Linked DNA regions of Homo sapiens: region 2 is linked to region 1. Evidence: fine-mapped expression QTL. Tissue or cell type: whole blood. Region 1 holds a variant in brackets; the other region holds the start of a gene. All regions are shown on one strand. Distances are between the middles of the regions.

Region 1 (7,841 bases):
ACGGCATATCATTTTTGGGTTGTGTTCACTCTATGATCCTAACGGCATCAGGTTTTGGTTGGTGCCAACATTCGGCCTCCACAACACATGTTTCCAGAAGCACCCTGGCCAGAATGGTGAGTCCCATAACACCTTGAACTCTGGGAATTTGAGCCACAGCTCTGCCGGTACCCCAAGATTCAGCACTGGTCTGACGACCTGCTAATTCACTGACAGCATAGGGCTGTCTGTTGTTTTTGTGCAAGTTGGTGTGAACAAAGTTCACAATATCTGGTCGAATAGGAGCCTTGAATACAGCAGGCAAAGTGACATTTTTGCCAGATGACTCCCCACTTTCAGAGTACACCGATATTAGTAGGCGAGCACATGCCATGGTGGAGAGGAGAGAGCCACGCTCCTCTCACCATGGCTGTTGCCACAGGCAAAGTTCTCTGTGCTTTTAAAAATGTGCCCCACATTTTAATTTTGCGTTGGGTCCTGGAAATTATGTAGCCAGCCTTACATATGGGAAAGAAGGTTAATGAAAAAAATGGACTGGGTAGTAACTTAATAATCTGAGTGTATGATACTTGTTTATCACCTGTTTCCCATCTCTATTGACTCAGTGAAAGTCTGAGAGATTTATTTAGAAAGGAAAACTGCCTTAGTGTCTGCAGCTTCCCGTAAAGAATCTGATCACTTGTTCCACTTTGGATTACAGCCTCGCCTCTGTCACACATCACCTGTGTAAGTGCCGGGCAAATCATTAAACTTCTCTCTTGAGCCTTGATTCCAGAGGGGTTATGGGTCTGGTGGCCAGGTAGGTAGTAGAGGGCAGATCCTGAGATGGGCCAGCATCCTCCTGGAAGTTACTTGCCTTGTTTTGAGGCTACTGAATAGCTTTCAAGCAAGCAAGAGTGAAGGGGGAAATGGGGTTTTATGTTTCAACAAGGGGGACTGGGCCACTTCTGCAGGTCCAGGGAGTTCTGGGGAATCTGAGCATTCAAGATCCTCAAGTAGGCTGAGTGCAGTGACTCATGTCTGTAATCTCAGCACTTTGGGAAGCTGAGGCAGAAGGATTGTTTGAGCCCAGGAGTTTGAGATCAGCCTAAGTAACATAGCAAGACCTCATCTCAATAAAAAACAAAACAATTAGCTGGGCATGGTGGCATGTGCCTGTAGACCTGACTACTCAGGAGGCTGAGGCAGGAGGATTGCTTGAACACAGGATGTTGAGGCTGCAGTGAGCTGTGATGGTGCCACTGCATTCCGGCCTAGGCAACAGAGTGAAATCCTGTCTCAAAAAAAAAAAAAAAAAAAAGGAAAAGAAAGACCCTTAGGGGCGACTACCCAGATATCCCATCCCAAGTCTCTAGGCCCTGTTCTTTCCCTAACAAGATCCTGACTTTGGCATAGGAAACTTGCTGAGGCCGAAAATTCATCCTTCTTTGAAATTCTGCCACCTTAAAACTAATTCTGGGCCTGGTCTTCAACTCTCTCTGCTCTTCAGCTTCAGGAAATAAAGGTCTCTTTAACTACTCTCCATTAGAGAATTAGAGATCTCTGATTCTCATATCTTGCTTTAAATTCACAATTGATTGCCCTGCATCTGTCACATCTGTCGTTTTCTTTTTTTCCAAGCTAAGAATGGAGTTTAGCAGCAGCCGCTCCATGTCAAAATCCTTAAAATGACCGTATCTCCTGTTCCTCTCAAATGCCAGAGATGGCATGACTTTCACATTCCCCTCTACTTGTATCCCTCTCACTTCACCAGAGGTGAACACTTTAGCAATGAATGGCACTGCTACTGCATGTCAGAGACTACTGATATCAGTACTTACCCCACCTACCACCAGTGATGTGATCCTTATTGCTCTCTCTTCAGTGGGTGATCTAATTCCAGAATCCCATCCTTAGAACCTGTTTTCTGGGACCAATACTGGTACTAACCCTCTTCAGTTGGGCTCTTTAGAAACAGTTGGCTACAGGGATTCAGGTACATGTGATTTATTGAAGGAGTGTTCAACTATCTAAGAGACTAAGAGATGCAAGACAATGAAGGGAAAGGGCCAAGCAAAAATGGTCTCAGGTAAAGTCTAGCCTTGGCCAGATTCAAGGGTGTGTGTGGCATCTGAAGCATATATCACAACATGGAGTTGTCCCACCTTCAGATAAGGGGTTCAGCCTTTTTGACCCCAATATCAGTCTACCATTGGCTCCAAGGTACCTCCAGGAATGGGACATAATTCAGAGGTGAGGTGGCTCCCATTGGCTGACAGCAGTTCTCCAGAGAAGGGGGCAAATGTGAGCCATTGGCAGCCAACGTTAACAACATCCACAATAATAGCTGGGGAATGGAATCTGGGCATCAGATGCACTTTCTACCCTCCTTTCAGGATGGTGACCGGTGTGGCTTACACCGCTAGGATTCCTTGCCCTTTGTTTTTCAATGGGGTTCAAAAATAGGGGAGTCTGGCTGGGTGTGGTGGCTCATGCCTGTTATCCCAGCACTTTGGGAGGGCGAGGTGGGATCACTTGAGGTCAAGAGTTTGAGACTGGGCTGGCCAGCCAATATGTTGAAACTCCATCTCTACTAAAAATACAAAAATTAGCCTGGTGTGGTGGCACGTGCCTGTAATTCCAGCTACTCAGGAGGCTGAAGTGGGAGAATCGCTTGAACCTGGGAGGCGGAGTTTGCAGTGAGCCAAGATTGCACCACTGCACTCCAGCCTGAGCGACAGAGTGAGACTTTGTCTCAAAAAAAAAAAAAAAAAAAAAAAAGCGGAGTCCTAGCATCAGGTCACAGGGAATAAAACAACAACTAGGCCAGGGTATTTATTCCCCTGGCATCCTCCCTGTAAGATCACCTTAGGCTGGCTGCATCCCCTGGCCAAAAGTCAAGGTAGCCCTCTGCATGTGACTTTGTCCTTCCAGGTTTTAGTAACCTCTGCCTTCCCTCAACCCTTCAAGGTGTACTATCCTTTGTAGTTTCTTTAAGCCCTACTACCTTTATAAATTTACCTTTATTAAATTCTCCTTGAATTATTTTGA[G/A]TGTGCTGTGATGTAAAACAGAATGCTACCCTGGCAGCAACTGATGAGATCAAGGAAGGTAAGCAGTTCAGTTTTCACTGTAAGTGCAATGAGACTTCATCAAAGGGTTTCAAGTAGAAGAATTATCTGTTTTTGAACTCTCAATTTTGATTTCTCCCTTAGCTGCCAGTATAATGTAAATTTTCCAGTAATTTTTATCAAGAAAAGAGACAAGGACGTTATGTTTTCTGAACTCTCATATTTTTAAGAATATTGTGTTTGTGGTTTTCATTTTTTTTCTTTTTAAAGACAGGGTCTTGCTCTGTCACCCAGGCTGGAATGCAGTGGTGCCATCATGGCTTACTGCAACCTTGACCTCCAGAGCTCAAATGATTCTCCCACCTCAGCCTCCTGAGTAGCTGGGACTCCAGGCATGCGCCACCATGCTTGGCTACTTTTTTTAGTTTTTGTAGAGACAGGTTCTCACTGTGTTGCCCAGGCTGGTCTCAAACTCCTGGGCTCAAGTGATCCTCCTGCTTCAGCCTCCTAAAGTATTGGAATTACGGGTGAGAGCCACTGAGCCCAGCCTGGTTTGCATTCTTTTTAAAAAATTTTCCAATGGTCCATAGAATCCTCAATGGTTTTCATTCTTCTTTTTTTTTTTTTTTTTTTTTGAGATGGAGTCTGGCTCTGTCGCCCAGGCTGGAGTGCAGTGGCACGATATCGGCTCACTGCAAGCTCCACCTCCCGGGTTCACGCCATTCTCCTTCCTCAGCCTCCTGAGTAGCTGGGACTACAGGTGCCCTCCACCACACCTGGCTAATTTTTTTTTTTTTTTGTATTTTTAGTAGAGATGGGGTTTCACCGTGTTAGCCAGGATGGTCTCGATCTCCTGACCTCGTGATCCGTCTGCTTTGGCCTCCCAAAGTGCTGGGATTACAGGCTTGAGTCACCGTGCCTGGCCTGGTTTTCATTCTTAAGTGACAACTGGTTTGGTATAAAAATTCTTGAGTCACAGCTGTATCCTCTCAAAAATCTACAGATGCTGTTTTAGTATTCTATAATTCAGTGGCAGAAAAGATGGAGGCAAGCTTAATTTTTGCTTCCTTGTAGGTAACACATTTTTCAGGTCTCAATGCTTATAGAATTTACCCCTTTAATCTTACTATTCATATACTCTACTACAAGGTAACTTAATGTGTCTTTTGATAATTTTTTTTTCTCCTGAAGGACTTTATTAAAACTTAAGTTTTCATTAAAGAATACATCAAAGAATAATGTTTCTGATGATTGCTCTGTTTCACTCTTTTTGGATTTCTTCCACAGGAACACTATGTAATTCTTAGTAGGCCTTTTTTTTTGGTCTCCTAGATCTAACATCACACTGTCCATTTACAGTTTTGATGTTTTTCCTCTGTGTTCAGTGGCAGCTTCTTGAACCTCTCTTCTGCATCACTGATTTTCTTCAATCAATTCTACTCCTCACTGCTTCAGTGAAGGGCTTAATGTTTGTGTTGCAATTTGTTTCCTGGCAAATTATTTTAACTTGCTCCCCTTTTGGCTGACCTAACTGTATACATAACACATTTAATTGTACTTCTTTTCTTGCCTTTTCTCTCTTTATGACTTTCTGAATTCCAAAAGCATCGGTTTCATCCTGTTGCAGATGCTGAGGTGCTCAAAATCAATTTAGTTCTTGTGGTACATCATTTTTTTTTTTTGTACACACGCATCTCTTTCTTTTTTTTTTTTCCTTTTTTTTCTTTATTATTATTACACTTTAAGTTTTAGGGTACATGTGCACAATGTGCAGGTTAGCTACATATGTATACATGTGCCATGCTGGTGCGCTGCACCCACTAACTCGTCATCTAGCATTAGATATATCTCCCAATGCTATCCCTCCCCTCTCCCCCAACCCCACAACAGTCCCTTGAGTGTGATGTTCCCTTTCCTGTGTCCATGTGTTCTCACTGTTCAATTCCCACCTATGAGTGAGAATATGCGGTGTTTGGTTTTTTGTTCTTGCGATAGTTTACTGAGAATGATGATTTCCAATTTCATCCATGTCCCTACAAAGGACATGAACTCATCATTTTTTATGGCTGCATAGTATTCCATGGTGTATATGTGCCACATTTTCTTAATCCAATCTATCATTGTTGGACATTTGGGTTGGTTCCAAGTCTTTGCTATTGTGAATAATGCTGCAATAAACATACATGTCCATGTGTCTTTATAGCAGCATGATTTATAGTCCTTTGGGTATATACCCAGTAATGGGATGGCTGGGTCAAATAGTATTTCTAGTTCTAGATCCCTGAGGAATTGCCACACTGACTTCCACAATGGTTGAACTAGTTTACAGTCCCACCAACAGTGTAAAAGTGTTCCAATTTCTCCACATCCTCTCCAGCACCTGTTGTTTCCTGACTTTTTAATGATTGCCATTCTAAATGGTGTGAGATGGTATCTCATTGTGGTTTTGATTTGCATTTCTCTGATGGCCAGTGATGGTGAGGATTTTTTCATGTGTTTTTTGGCTGCATAAATGTCTTCTTTTGAGAAGTGTCTGTTCATGTCCTTTGCCCACTTTTTGATGGGGTTGTTTGTTTTTTTCTTGTAAATTTGTTTGAGTTCATTGTAGATTCTGGATATTAGCCCTTTGTCAGATGAGTAGGTTGCGAAAATTTTCTCCCATTTTGTAGGTTGCCTGTTCACTCTGATGGTAGTTTCTTTTGCTGTGCAGAAGCTCTTTAGTTTAATTAGGTCCCATCTGTCAGTTTTGGCTTTAGTTGTCATTGCTTTTGGTGTTTTAGACATGAAGTCCTTGTCCATGCCTATGTCCTGAATGGTAATGCCTAGGTTTTCTTCTAGGGTTTTTATGGTTTTAGGTCTAACATTTAAGTCTTTAATCCATCTTAAATTGATTTTTGTATAAGGTGTAAGGAAGGGATCATTTCAGCTTTCTACATATGGCTAGCCAGTTTTCCCAGCACCATTTATTAAATAGGGAATCCTTTCCCCATTGCTTGTTTTTGTCAGGTTTGTCAAAGATCAGATAGTTGTAGATATGCGGCGTTATTTCTGAGGGCTCTGTTCTGTTCCATTGATCTATATGTCTGTTTTGGTACCAGTACCATGCTGTTTTGGTTACTGTAGCCTTGTAGTATAGTTTGAAGTCAGGTAGTGTGATGCCTCCAGCTTTGTTCTTTTGGCTTAGGATTGACTTGGCGATGCGGGCTCTTTTTTGGTTCCATATGAACTTTAAAGTAGTTTTTTCCAATTCTGTGAAGAAAGTCTTTGGTAGCTTGATGGGGATGGCATTAAATCTGTAAATTACCTTGGGCAGTATGGCCATTTTCACGATATTGATTCTTCCTACCCATGAGCATGGAATGTTCTTCCATTTGTTTGTATCCTCTTTTATTTCCTTGAGCAGTGGTTTGTAGTTCTCCTTGAAGAGGTCCTTCACATCCCTTGTAAGTTGGATTCCTAGGTATTTTATTCTCTTTGAAGCAATTGTGAATGGGAGTTCACTCATGATTTGGCTCTCTGTTTGTCTGTTGTTGGTGTATAGGAATGCTTGTGATTTTTGTACATTGATTTTGTATCCTGAGACTTTGCTGAAGTTGCTTATCAGCTTAAGGAGATTTTGGGCTGAGACAATGGGGTTTTCTAGATATACAATCATGTCATCTGCAAACAGGGACAATTTGACTTCCTCTTTTCCTAATTGAATACCCTTTATTTCCTTCTCCTGCCTAATTGCCCTGGCCAGAACTTCCAACACTATGTTGAATAGGAGTGGTGAGAGAGGGCATCCCTGTCTTGTGCCAGTTTTCAAAGGGAATGCTTCCAGTTTTTGCCCATTCAGTATGATATTGGCTGTGGGTTTGCCATAGATAGCTCTTATTATTTTGAGATACGTCCCGTCAATACCTAATTTATTGAGAGTTTTTAGCTTGCAGGGTTGTTGAATTTTGTCAAAGGCCTTTTCTGCATCTCTTGAGATAATCATGTGGTTTTTGTCTTTGGTTCTGTTTATATGCTGGATTATATTTATTGATTTGCATATATTGAACCAGCCTTGCATCCCAGGGATGAAGCCCACTTGATCATGGTGGATAAGCTTTTTGATGTGCTGCTGGATTCAGTTTGCCAGTATTTTATTGAGGATTTTTGCATCAATGTTCATCAAGGATATTGGTCTAAAGTTCTCTTTTTTGGTTGTGTCTTTGCCCGGCTTTGGTATCAGGATGATGCTAGCCTCATAAAATGAGTTAGGGAGGATTCCCTGTTTTTCTATTGATTGGAATAGTTTCAGAAGGAATGGTACCAGTTCCTCCTTGTACCTCTGGTAGAATTCGGCTGTGAATCCATCTGGTCCTGGACTCTTTTTGGTTGGTAAGCTATTGATTATTGCCACAATTTCAGATCCTGTTATTGGTCTATTCAGAGATTCAACTTCTTCCTGGTTTAGTCTTGGGAGAGTGTATGTGTCGAGGAATTTATCCATTTCTTCTAGATTTTCTAGTTTATTTGCGTAGAGGTGTTTGTAGTATTCTGTGATGGTAGTTTGTATTTCTGTGGGATCGGTGGTGATATCCCCTTTATCATTTTTTATTGCATCTATTTCATTCTTCTGTCTTTTTTTCTTTGTTAGTCTTGCTAGCGGTCTATCAATTTTGTTGATCCTTTCAAAAAACCAGCTCCTGGATTCATTAATTTTTTGAAGGGTTTTTTGTGTCTCTATTTCCTTCAGTTCTACTCTGATTTTAGTTATTTCTTGCCTTCTGCTAGCTTTTGAATGTGTTTGCTCTTGCTTTTCT
Region 2 (7,841 bases), 55 kb after region 1:
AGTTGGGACGGTCAAATTGGATAATACATGCAAAAATATTCTGCAAACTATAATGTCCCATTGGTACTCCATGAAAAGGGGTAAGTTTGGTAAGTACTGGTGTGATATCGTGATTTACAAAATATACTCATTTGGTCTTAATCCCCATTTCCTGACATATCCTTGGAATCGCTGCAGTGATGTGTCTTGTGTATGCTAATAAGATGACTGGTAGCTTAGCCCCCAGATAGATTCCAGATGGAGGCTGGTCACAGAAAAACCTAGGCATGATTAGAAGACTGGGACTTTACAGCCCCACCCCCTAGCTTCCTGGAAGGGGAGGAGGGCTCAAGGTTGAACTGATTTCTAATAGCCAATGATGTAATCAATCATGCCTACTAAGGAAGACTCCATAAAACCCAAAAAGGACAGGGTTCAGAGAGCTTCCCAAAAGCTGAACAAGTAGAGAGTTCCTGGACGGTGGCACACCTGGAGAGGGCACAGAAGCTCTGTACCCCTTGCCCTATGCACCTCTTCCATCTGGCTGTTGATCTCTATCCTTTATAATAAACCAGTAAACAAAGTGTTTCTCTTAATTCTGTAAGCCACTCTAGCAAATAAACTGAACACAAGGAAGGGATTGTGGGAACTCTGATTTATAGCCAGTCAGTTGGAAACACAGGTAAAACAACCTGGAACTTGTGATTGGCACCTGAAGTGGGGGGAATCTTGTAGGATTAAGCCCTCAACCTGCAGGATCTGATGCTATCTCTAGGTATACAGTATCAGAATTGAATTAGAGGACACCCAGCTGGAGAATCTGCTGCAGAATTTCCTCCTTGCTTGTGAGGAGAAATCTTTTGGGGGTCTGTGTTGAGAGAGAATAGGAGAAACTCAATTTTTTTCTATCAAAACAACTGGATTAAACAAAGCTAGTTTTCTTTGCTACAGAATGACTCACATCCTGTTATATGCTAATATGCATTGTGACTTTCCAGGAAAATGCTTGTGTATGCAACATACTAAAATTTTTTTTTGCGAAAAAGTTCTTCTATGCAAATAATGAATTTTCAGTATTTTTGACTAGATGGTAGATGAATACCCATCAATTCAGGATAGCTCAGAAATACTGAATGTTTTACTATGTGCTAGGCACGGTGCTCAGTGATACACATGCATTTTCTTTTACTCTTTATGATGCTTCTTTAAAGTAGGCACCAAGAAACTAGGAGAAAACTAAAGTTTAGTAACGATAACGTTAGTCACTACATTCATTGAAACAGCAGAGATACAGGCCTAAATTAATCAATGGCTGTGCATTATCAGTTTTAATCATTTGTTCAATTAGTTGCCCATCAGGTTTACAGAATTCTGTTCTAGAAAGACTCACTTCCTGCTAACAACCCAATAGTCCTGCTTCCTTTTCCATAAGAAGAAACACTTAGACCTTTAAATTAGGTATAGTTAGACATCAGTTTGTTTGTTAATGATATACACTTAAAAAAGAATAATCCCAGGATCTGGCTTCACGAACCAAATAAAAGTAATGTTTTAAGTCAGCTGCTTGTCAAAACCAAAGGACACACTTTTCTTTGATAAGAAATGCTTCCAAATCAGAAATTATTCACTTGTAACAAAAACCAAATTCTTGCTGCCTGAGTAACAGCTCTTGAGTTCTTGGTTCCACAATATTTCTGTCACATACATCTGGCCCTTTTATTCCTCATACTTTGATGTCAGAATACTTCATTCATGCAGAAATGTAACAGAATGCATGGAAAAACAGATGACAAGGCAAATTACTGAAGAACTTGTGCTTTTAACTATTATCTGTATTTAGATTTTAACCCCTGCAATGAGGCTGCCTCAACATCCCAAAGCAAACAACGGGCAGACTTATATAATGCCTTTATAAGACATACAGTAAAACTACAATCTTAAGGATGAGCAAACACCATATTCAGGTCTCTTAATCCCAAGAAACCATGTGCAACAAATAGCCCATCAGCAAAGCAGTAGGCAGATTAATTAGCTACCTTGATGAACTTTGATGTTATTTGCAACTGATTATTAGTAACTGATATGTGTATCAAACAACTAGTAGAAATAAATCATGCTCAGAAAGTAGACTAGGATATAGTCTGCCTAAGATTTCTCCTACAAAAAAAGACATGTGAATTCAGCTGTTTGTGACTAGGTATACATGTAAATAAGAGAGCCATCATGTACTTCCACATTGAGGATAGACCACCACTATACAATTCACTCAAATGAGTCACATCACCGTATGCTTCTTATACATCAGCATATACTTAAATGTCTATGTGTGCGTTTTTGTAAGTAGTACGTTATCTAGTCAATAGCTTTGAATCTGGGCAAAGGCTCTCCTTTTCCCAGCCTCCATTCTCTTTCTGATTCGTCTTCCTTGTCTGTCATCAGCCTTCTTGCTTGATGCAGTTTCACAGAAATAAAGTGACTTGGATGGACACAGACCGGAGATATTATTTGCAAAACCTGTCAAGTGTAACGATTCACCCCCACCTTCCGGTCATTATAAACACAGCAGGGTTGGCGCTCTTTCCCCCGGGCCCTTTAAATACACAATTTCAGGCAGCTCCGTTCACCCCCCACACCCAATCTGTCACACCAGGCCACGTCCCACGATATATCTGCTCCTAACGCTGGCCCTTCCTGCCCCATTGTACCCCCTGGAATTCCTCACTACATCCCACTCTTAACAAACCTTCCCCATCCATGGTACTGTTCTCTTCCCATCACCCCAGAGTACCCCTCAATTCCAATTCTTCTCTCCCTCAACTGCTCCTCGTCCGCATACCCCTGTCCTCGTCTTCCTTCCTCACGGCACCCCCGGCCCCAACCTTTTCCCACTCCGGGGTCCCTTCCTAGATCCCCGAGGCCCGCCGACCAGCCCGACTAGGACGTCGGGGGGCGGCAAGGCAGGGGCGTCTTCTTCGTTTCCTTCCTCCTCACACCAGCCCCTCCCGCTGCGAACAGGCCAGCGCCAGTACCTGAGGCTCCCGGGGAACTCCCGGCAGCTCTCCCGGGCTGGCGGTGCTGGGCGGGCGGGGGAAGGAGTAGGAAGCCGAGGTAAGAAGCTGGGAGGGGGAGACAGTTGGTGCGGACCCGGCGTCGGCCGCAGCGCCGCAGCAGCGCCTCCGCTCATCGAGCCGATCGGCGCTCGGCGGCCTGGCGCCAGGCGGAGGGGGCGGGTCCAGGGCACGGAGATAATCGAGGAAGTCGATCCGCCGAGCCCTATTCACCTAAAAGAGCCCGAACCCACACGCAGTTTAGATGCATCTCTCCAAATTTATGCTGTGCTTTAGGGGAGGAACAACCACTGGTTGTCCACGTTCCGGTCGTGATCCGGCGTGCGTGGAGGGCGATTAGGGGAGGAGTGGGAAACTTCCGAGAACCGCTCGGGACTGGGCGCCGCGCCGGAGTGCGTGGCTGGGGTGATGAGGCGTTAGAAAGAAGGTGGTGCTTGGTGGCACATCCGTCCCTCTGGCTGACTACGTTGAGTGGCAAGTGGAGAGTGGCTCGCAGCTCGAGGACCTGCTTCGGGTTCGTCTGGGGCCTTTTCTGAAGAAAGGAGATCTGTTTGATCCCCTGTTTACAGAATTAGAGCTAGACTTGGAAAGAGATGTTAAGGCCAGGCTCCTCCCTTTAGATAGGAGGAATATCTGGTTCAGAGAGGAGATTGACTTAAAGTTAACACGGCTAGTTTAGATAGATACGGGACGAGGGCTCGGTGTTCTTTTCCCGGTATCCCTTAGTTGTAACCTGAAAGCCTTCAGGAAATCGCCCTCGCCAGGCCATTCCGCCACTCTGCCCATTCCTTCCTCACTCCCTCCCCCTCCGCCCAATTTGGTATCATGTTTAGATCTCCACGCCCGCAGTAGCTGTCTACCAGAAACAATTCCTAATTTTGTTTTTCCGTTCTCTTATTTGTTTTATTATCCGTTCCTCCCACGCCCCAGCTGGATTATTTTACTCATTGAATCATATTCACTACACATCTTTTAAAATTAATACAGTATCTATGGGTCCTTTGTTGATACAGTATTTTAACTGTCTGAAATACTGTGCCAGGCACTTTCTAAAGACATAAAAATAAGAGGGGGTGTTCAAGAACAAGAGTAGACAAGAAAACAGCAGGAGGAAAGATCTGCGGACACTAAAGGAAAGGAAAGAATAGACACCCTCTTACCAAAAAGTTGTTCTTCTTTTGTTTGATGTTTATTTTTATGTAAAAATGTACTAACGAATTTGAAAGATGCCATGACTAAGGCAACGATGCTCCACTCTGATTCACTTGGAGTTGAATCACTTGGAAAGCTTTTAAAACTACGTAGGTGCCCACGTGCTACCTAGATTCTGATTTAAATGTTCTGAGATTTAGAAACAGCCGTTGAGTTGTCAGTTGAAGGTTCTGAAAGCTTAATGCTAAACTCAGTTGCCTGTGTTTATTCAGTCCAAGTTGCTGTCCAAGTCAGCAACTTGGACTGAAACGGCCCACTTAGAAGAGAAGCCTCTCATGGTTTGTATCCCTGTCTAGGTGTGATAGTGGGTCTACCCCCAGACTCCACAGGTAACCCTGACATTATTTTTTCTTCTACAGCTGATCTTTTTTTTTTTTTTGAGATGAAGTCTCACTTCTTCCCCCAGGCTGGAGTGCAGTGACACAATCATAGCGCACAGCAGCTCTGAACTCCTGAGCTAAAGTGATCTTCCTGCCTCTGCCTCCCAAGTAGCTGGGATTACAGGCATGAGCAGCTGTGCCCAGCACTTACAGTTGATTTTATGTCTGTATATTTGCATGTTATGGGCTATTTTCTGGCTTTGGTGCCTTAGCCAATTAGAGTTTAGCTAGTTATAGCCTCATCTCTTAGACAACTTAAGGTGTGGTCAGTGAGCTCTAACAGGCACGTCATTGCATAGCTTTTACAGATAATCCATTCTTTGGGTTTTTTTGTTTTTTAAACATAATTCTTTAGTCCTGCCAGTCATTTTGGAATGATCGCTTAGGAGAGGGGTAATGCAAGCCCCACCCTTAATCACCTGAACAAAGTCCCTTTGACTAACCCCAATATTTGTGAAACTTAGAAAATGTCATTTTACAGTTAACATGAATCAAATATACCAGTAAGCCTAAAAGATTATAATAGCACTGAGCTTAGAGTCAGAACTCCAAGCAACTTGAGTTACTTATTTCCTCCATTTTCTTTTTAGTGAGCTTCAGTTATTCAGATGTTAGTCCTCTAATTTTCTTTTCCCCTTTTTCAACATGACACCTTCATCCTTAAGAGGGCCTGCTGTCCTCCTAGCTAGAGAATCAGCGTTTTGCTGTCTTTCAGGACTAAATCTCTGGGTTTTTGATGGGATAGCAAAGGGAATCTCAGCATCTGATTCATTCTTAAACAGACTTTATACCATTCCGCCTGTATTTATAGCTCACATCATGCTCTCTTCAGCTTTACGTGGTGTTTCCAATTCCTGAGCCTTATACAGGGTTTCACTGTGTGTATCAGGTTGCTTCATGGCCTGCTTGGGATTCCTACTTTTCAAGTCTGCTAAGGCAATTGCATCTTGATTCATCTCCCTTCTAGCTTTCAATATTTTGTTGCTAAATGTTCAACATTACTTAAAATGTAAAAGTGAACAAGGAAATACCATTTTTCATCTATCAGTGACTGAGAAAGAAGGAGTTGAGCAGAAGATCTGCAATCCAGTCTCTCCCTTCGTAGGGAAATACTCTCAGGAAAGCAAGGTTAAAGCAAGCAAAAAAGCATGTGATTTTTATAAAATATAAAGTATATACTAATTACAGACCTCCTGGCAAACAAACTAATGGCATTTGCTAGCAAGAGAGTCCATATTTACGGAATTCCTCTAACAGGATGTCCCAGGGCTGGGATTGTTTATGGTAAACACATTAAGAATCGATGTGGTAATTCCAGCACTTTGGGAGGCTGAGGCAGGTGGATCACTTGAGGTCAGGAGTTACCAGCCTGGCCAACATGGCAAAACCCCGTCTCTACCAAAACTACAAAAATTAGCTGAGTGTGGTGGTGTACACTTGTAACACCAGCTACTCAGGAGGCTGAGGCAGAAGAATAGCTTGCACTGGAGATGCGGAGGTTGCAGTGAGCAGAGATCGCGCCACCGCCCTCCATCCTGGTCAACAGAATGAGACTCCCTCTCACAAAACAAAAAAGAATCAATGCGGATTTCAGGGGTATGATTAACTGGAAAATACCGCGGAAGTTATGTAACGTAGCATAAAATGGAAGTGTTTTGTAACTGATTTGGCTCCTTCTGTGTAAGTGGGGTGACTGTACACTTGATTTAGAAACCACATCTACTGTCCTGGGCCAGGATGCATCCAAAGCAAGAAGAAAGGACCTGGGGATTACTGGTATCCTTGAAACTATTAGTAAAGCTTGATACTGAGTAAAATCTCTGATTTGAGCCTGATTTGACAGTTTGATCTTTTGTGTTAGCTCAATAGCAAAAATAAAAAAAATTTGATACTACAATATTGGGTGTGTGTATGTGTGGTATGGGAGCAGCGTGGGAGGAACAAGCATTCTTAAACAGTAAGAGTATAAAAATTGGTGCATTTTTAAAAATTTCATGGTAATTATATGTATCAAAATTTTATATGAAGTTCTTTTTGATCTAATAATTTTACTTCTAAAATTTATCCCATGGGTATACAGGTTGTATATAAAAGTATTCTATAAAAATATCTGTTACAGGATTTTTGTAACAGAGTGAAAAAAAAAACTCTAAATGTTCAGCAATAGGAAATTGCTGAAATGAGTCATAGTCTAGCCATTCAATAGAATAGTATGCAGCCATTAAAATGAACTAGATAGATCTATATGTGCTGACATGGAATACCTCTATGATGCTATAAGGTGAGAAAAGTAAGGTGCAAAATAGTGTGTAGACTCTACTTCCATTTGAGCATCACACACACACACACACACACACACACACACACACCAGGAGGACTGTGAATCTGGCATGGAAAGTGTTATGGACTGAATTATGTCCCCTCAAAATTCATATGTTGAAGTCTTAACTTCCAGTGTGACTAGATTTGGAGATAGGGCCTTTAGGACAATAATTAAGGTTAAATGAAATCAAAAAGGCAAAACCCTAATCCTGTAGGGCTAGTGTCTGAGTGCATGGGCACAGAGAAGAGGCCATATGAGAACACAGAAGATGGCCATTTGCAGTCCAGAAAGAGAGGCCACACCATAAGCCAACCCTGATGACTCCTTGATCCTGGACTTTTAGCCTCTAGGACTGTGAGAAAATAAATTTCTGTAGTTAAGCCACCTAGTCCATGGTATTTCATTATAGCAGCCCTAGAAGACTAATACAGAAGGGAAACTTTCTTGATGTGTAGTGTTTTGTACTATTGGAATATCTTTACCATGTATATCAGTTTTTCAATTAAAACAATGGTAGAGGCACTCTCTTCCCCTAAAATTGGGACCACTGGACCAGTTAATTTAAAAAGTCAGTTACAGTGGTACATATTTAAAAATGGCAAATATATACTTTAGTCATTTTATTTTGACTCAAATGTATATGTTCACTCACCAGTCTTGGTAGTAGGCCCAAGACCTTTTATCTGAGCATGAATTTGCTGGTTGGAACACCTGCTTTGTCTTTGTTACAAGTTGCATTGTTTACAGTTTACAGTTTCATTTTCTTCAAAGTGGAATAAGAAGTTAAAGACACCTTTCAAGCAATTTGAATGCCCAGTCAGTCTAGATTTTTGTACAATTTTTTCTCCAAAGTTTTACAGGTTTGTCTTACCTGTGCCT

What was found. PIP is the estimated chance that this variant, and not a neighbour inherited with it, causes the effect.
Region 2: VAMP4 starts here. The variant in region 1 is fine-mapped to the expression of VAMP4 in whole blood (TOPMed, PIP 0.94).

The regions. Positions count from the first base shown.
Region 1 is chr1:171,684,066-171,691,906 of GRCh38, forward strand. It overlaps the pseudogene RPL4P3. Among named protein-coding and RNA genes, the nearest start is that of MYOC, 35 kb to the left of the region's middle. The variant G/A (reference allele first, on the strand shown) is at 3,031.
Region 2 is chr1:171,738,902-171,746,742 of GRCh38, forward strand. VAMP4 (vesicle associated membrane protein 4) reads right to left here and starts at 3,164. Exons shown (of 8, transcript NM_003762.5): 1 at 3,009-3,164.